Regions from separate parts of the Homo sapiens genome. Here region 2 is linked to region 1. The links come from fine-mapping of genetic effects on gene expression. A gene starts in region 1. The other region holds a variant in brackets. All regions are shown on one strand. Distances are between the middles of the regions. Region 1 holds the start of SYNRG (synergin gamma). Region 2 overlaps SYNRG (synergin gamma).

Evidence for each region.
Region 2: its variant is fine-mapped to the expression of SYNRG in whole blood (TOPMed, PIP above 0.99).

Annotation. Positions count from the first base shown.
Region 1 is chr17:37,608,109-37,611,020 of GRCh38, forward strand. It overlaps SYNRG (synergin gamma), which reads right to left and starts at 1,310. Exons shown (of 22, transcript NM_007247.6): 1 at 1,171-1,310. The coding sequence starts at 1,247. It overlaps DDX52 (DExD-box helicase 52), which reads right to left. Exons shown (of 15, transcript NM_007010.5): 15 at 1,631-2,912.
Region 2 is chr17:37,536,824-37,539,735 of GRCh38, forward strand. It overlaps SYNRG (synergin gamma), which reads right to left. Exons shown (of 22, transcript NM_007247.6): 17 at 2,369-2,422; 18 at 1,501-1,597. Among named protein-coding and RNA genes, the nearest start is that of DUSP14, 48 kb to the left of the region's middle. The variant G/T (reference allele first, on the strand shown) is at 1,417.

The DNA of each region.
Region 1 (2,912 bases):
AAAGAGAAAGCAAAAAGTTTAAAAATCTAAAGTTAAAGATGTGCAGAGGAAATGAAAAATGGGGTTACACACAGGTGGTTTATTGAACAGCCACTGCTCGTTTCCTGACAAGCACCTGCAAGAGGTGATAACTTTAAGGTCCTTACACTTTTGTAGTGTTCACGACTCCGAAATTGAAACACTGCATATAAAAAAAAAACCTAACACTTCGTTTTCCAAAGACAATTTAGGATACTGAAGATGCAAAGCTACTTTTACCTCCAAATGTGTGTGCTGTTGTGTGTTGGTTAGTAAAACAAAATCAGACTAGGTCATTATAGAAGTGGAGTGAAAACTTCCTAGAATAAAATATTTCCTTAAATGATAACGAATCTGTCAGCTTGTAAAACGTACATCTCCCTTACCATTCTGGGTATAAGAACCACGGCAGTTCTTGGCTGAAATGTGGCAGAGGGCAGATTTGTTTAAGGGCTGAGTCTGGAAGCTTTGTTCTAATAAATGCGCAACTGCTGTTTAACAGTGCACTTTCTTTGTTTTTAAATGCCTTTTTAAAAAGAAGACAGACAAGTCTTAAGAGTTAGTGTACAAGACAAGAACTCTATCTCAAGACCATTACTAATTCAGAGGTCTTTAGATGTTCCTGCTGTTTGTCGCGGGTTAAGGAAATAAAGAGGACAGGACACTCTAAAAGGGGAAGAGACAAATAGTCCACACACACACCCCCCTTGGAAACAGTCCTCCAGCTTTGTGAACAGATTTTTAAAGCCCTCCCTCCAACATATCCGGTTAAGTCTAGAAAGCCCAAGGAAAGGGAAGACCCTGGTCGCTTCAGAGGCAGCTAGGACTAGGAGCGGAGTCGCGGTTCCTGATTTGCCCCGCCCCCCCCCACCCCAAGAGGACCCTCATCTTCTCTCCCCTCCCACACTGGGCGCGCGCTCGCTCCCCGCTCGATTCCAGGCGGCCGGCGCCCCCAACTGATCCCGGAACACCAGCGTCCAGCACCTGGGCTCCACACGCCCCTTTCGGCCTGGGTCCCTGGGGGATGACCCTCCTCCCGCAGCCCAGTTCCAAGGAAAAGGATCAGGGCTGGAGAAAACTGCCATAACTGCCAAGCGCCCCTCGCCGCCCCCGCGGAGGCCAGCGGGCTCCCGCCCGGCTCTTCACACCTACCCGCCTCCCCCGGCGGACCCCGCGCCAGCTCCCGCGGCCCCGCCGCCACCAGAACCAGCTCCTGGCCGCAGCGCCATCTTGCTCCCGACCTGCCGCTGCCTTCGCCGCCGCCACCTTATCAGCAGCTGTCAGCTGAACACAGCCACTTCCGGGTCAAACACCAGGCCCCACCTCGCCGCGGACCGGGCGATGGGGCGGGGCCTCGCGCCCACGTGACTCCCCCGGCCCTCGGGGAGGCGTGGCGCGCCCACGGCACGTGACCCGGCGCCGCAGGGGTCCCCCAGATTCAATTCTAGCTCTCGGGCTGGTGGGGCGGTCGCGGGCGCCTCTCCAAGGGAGCTGATTCATTGTCTGGTAGGCCCTCTGCAGGGCCCAGCTGGCGGCCCAGTGGCAAAGCGCCGTTGGTCCTCCGTTTGAAAACCATGATCGCGGTTAGTGGAAAGAGTAGGCTGAGTCCTGATTTTTAAACTATACGGTGGGTACACTGGTGTTCTTTTATTGTTACTCTTTACACACAAAGAACAGATAGGTCCTGAAGGGCCCTTTGATAGTCTCGCAGCACTGATGAGTGATCAGCTCTCCCCTCTTTCTCTGGAACTCGGTAGCTTCATGTTGGCACCTATCACAGACGCTGAAGGCATTTAAATTTTATTTTAAATCAACCAAGAGCCCAAAAACCCAACCCATATTTCGAAAAAACTCCAAGGTGTACTACTCTTGTTTGGTTCTGCCATCCTGCCACCTTACAGTCCTTTTGTTTTTCCTATTCTTGCAGGCAAGTGCAAAACAGTGGTTTTTGGAAGGCAATTCATAATTACTCTGAAGCTATTTCGGCATATTTTTTACTGATTTTTTTTTTTTTTGAGACAGGGTCTTGCTCTGTTGTCCAGGCTGGAGTGCAGTGGCATGATCATGGCTCACAGCAGCCTCAGCCTCCCTGGCTCAAGCGATCCTCTCGCCTCAGCCTCCTGAGTAGCTGGGACCACAGGCATGCACCACCACACCGGGCCAATTTTTTTTTTTTTTTTTTTTTTTTTTTTTGTAGAGATAGGATCTATGTTGCCCAGGCTAGTTTCAAACTGCTAGGCTCAAGCTATGCTCCCACCTCGGCCTCCAAGTGCCAGGGTGTGAGCCACATGCCTGGGCTGTGATTTTTTTTTTTCTTTTAATCAAACTACTGTCTGGAAGTAAAACATGAAAGTTGAGTAATTTTCTCAAGCACGTAGTTTGCTTGCTAACAAGTAATGGATTAATTAGCTTTACGTTTTCACTCTTGTCTCAAGGTTTTTACTGGGTAATAATTTGTAATAAGTTATTAGGCACAAACCACTGGTCAGGAACTGTACACGCATTTTAAAAAATCCTCAGTATCCTTAGGAGTTACAATTGGCATCTTACAGATGAGAAAATCAAGGTTAGAAACAGTTACTGTCATTTGTCCAGATCATACAGCTACAAGCAATGAGGATCAGGATTCAAATCCAGGCCAGTTTGACTCTAAAGTCCTTGCTCATTTCACCAGAGCCAGCTATTCAATTTTTATGTTTTTTCTTTTGCTGTAACTGCCTGTTCACTAATTTCACTCCTTCCCTTCCTTGTGTGAAGCTGAAATTTATGTAGCACATAGTTCCAACTGCTTTGAAGGAGCTAAATTTAGTATTAATACACTGACTAAGTTGATACAGGTTACTGTAGATACTTTAAACAGACACAATAAAGTCAAGGATCATAGATGTGACCTC
Region 2 (2,912 bases), 71 kb before region 1:
TAAGGACAGCCACCAGACACATCCCTAACCCCTGCAATGTAACAGTCACCAAAGACATGACCCCGATCTCTCTAAGTGAACACTGGAGGAATTCCAGGGGATCTTCAGAGCGGGGCCTCAGCAGCCCTGTGTCAGCACTACGGCTTTTCTTCTTCCTTTCCCAAGAGAGGGGCAGAAATTACTGCCCACCCTAAGCCAAGTGAGGGGGCTTCTAAGAGAATCTTCCATAGATACAAGGATACTAGGAGAAAAGACAGGTGCCCCATTTCCTGGTGGACATCTGCTTATGCAGAACTGTGCCTGTTTGAGCAGGAAAAGAAGACCCCAAGTGAGGTGGCAGGAGTAAGGCAGAGACTACATCCCTTCACTCTCCACTCATCCAGCAAATATTTTTGAGTGCCAACTACGTGCAAGACACTAGATTAGGTGTTGGGGACACACCAGTGAACAAAACAGACCAAAATCCTTGCCTTCTTGGAGGTTCATTCTAGTGAAGGGAGACAGAGAGTAAAAACAACAAGTAGCTAGGTGCAGTGGCTCACGCCTGTGATCCCAGCACTTCGGGAGGCCAAGGTGGGTGGGTCGCTTGAGCTCAGGAGTTCGAGACCAGCCTGGGCAACATGGCGGAAACCTGTCTCTACAAAAACTACAAAAATTAGCTGGGTGCATGGTGGTGCACACCTGTGGTTCCAGCTACTTGGGAGGCTGAGGTGGGATGATTGCTTGCGCCTGGGAGGTGGACGCTGCAGTGAGTCATGACTACATCACTACACTCCAACCTGGGTGACAGAGTGTGAACCTGTCTTAAAAAAGAAAAGAAAAGAAAAGAATAATAAGTAACATATGTAAGAAATTAAAGGTAATAGGGCTAAGGAGAAAATCCAGCAGAGAATGGGATGGGAAGTACCGGGGTAGGGAGAGACGATACTCTTTGGAGAGATGGATGCTAGGAAAGATTTCACTCAGAAGCTGACATTTGAGTAAAGATTTGAAAAAGATTAGGGTCCAGCATGTGTGGCTCTGGCCACGGGCCAAGCCTGAGCTTGGGGAAGGGAGGAACACCGAAGTGGACAGAGACTACACTTTCCCGTTGGACTGACACATCAAATTGCTGCAGATGGCCAGGAGGTTAAGGACTCTGTGGTGTCATTAAGCGGTCGAGAGAAAGAATATAGAGTATGGTAAGGAATTGATGGGAGACAAGATGATTTTACTTTAGTGCATCGGTAGTTCAGATTCTTTGATAAACCAGTAACACAGATATAATTTTACATTTTTGCTATTACGTATATAACAAGGATGAGGAAACTTAGCCATAGAGACTTTTTAATTAAGTCCAATAGTTTACTGCCTGTAGCTTGAGTGTCTTACCCACAAATACAGATGCTTCTTACTGAAGTCATATGTAACTTGAGA[G/T]ATCTAGCTTAAAATAATTAAAGGGAAAACTGAAAATAATGCAAAGGGCCATCATTTTCAATAGTAAAATATGAAAGAACATACCTAATAAATATTCCATGCCTTGAGCTGACTGAATTACTTCTGTGCAAACAGAACTACTACTGATTCCATTTAAGGTATCATTTGCCTTCTTAATGACCTACAAGAAATGAAATCACATCACCTTACATAACTGAGAAAAGTCATTGCAAATCAATTTACTATTAGTAGAAAACCCAACCGAAAAGCCAGGAGGTGTCAAAAAATCTCATTTTATCCTTGAAGAAACAATCCTCCATTTCTCTGGAAGAGAAAATATGTTTTTTTCCTTTTGTTTTGTTTTGCTTTGTTTTGAGACGGAGTCTCGCTCTGTAGCACAGGTTGGAGTGCAGTGGCAAGATCTCGGCTCACTGAACCCCTGACTCCCGGGTTCAAGTGATTCTCCTGCCTCAGTTTCCTGAGTAGCTGAGATTACAGGCACGTGCCACCACGCCTGGCTAATTTTTGCATTTTTAGTAGAGACAGGGTTTCACCATGTTGGTCAGGCTGGTCTCAAACTCCTGACCTCGTGATCCGCCCGCCTTGGCCTCCCAAAGTGCTGGGATTATAGGTGTTGAGCCACCGCACCCAGCCAAGACAGGTTCTTTAGCTTAAATATTATTTTGATTTAGTCAGAGTTAATGAAATCACTTTGTTATTTCTTAAACACAATGACAGATGAGGGGATGACTGACACATGAGCCGGTCTGCTATTGTAAGTGTGAAAGAAGCCTCACCTTAGATGCATGACTTCCACAGAGTTACTCTTTGCCCAGGGACATCCAAGTAAGGCTCTCCTGAAGTTTGCCTCTGTCAATTCAAATGAACCAAGAAGGCAAAAAGGCACAAAAGAGCACTCACATATGTGTGAACGCGTAAGTGACATACTCACATTCAGGGCACTCCCCAGGCATCTCTGCCATTCATATGCATATCTCTCATTTTCCTGTGAATTTGTTAAAAAGAACTGGGTTAAACACACAAACCTGGAATCTTCTATTGATGACTCTGTCAATTCAAAGTGCTTGGAGGACTTTCCTTTTTATTACGATCACTCTAGTTCAAGCAGTTTATGTTTTTTTTGTTTTTGTTTTTGTTTTGAGATAGGGTCTTGCTCTGTTGCCCAGGCTGAAGTGCAGTGGCATGATTTCTGCTCACTGCACTGGACGCAAGCAATCCTCCCACCTCAGCCTCCAGAGCAGCTGGGACTACAGGCACGCACCACCACATGAGGCTAATTTTTGTATTTTTGGTAGAGGTGGGGTTTCACCATGTTGCTCAGGCTTGTCTTGAACTCCTGAGCTCGAGTGATCTGCCCGACTTGGCCTTCCAAAGTGCTGAGATTACAGGCATGAGCCACCATGCCCAGCCGCAGTTTATCTTTTTGAACTCACTAATAACTATGTTAAATTACTAATAAATGTAACTTCTGAGCA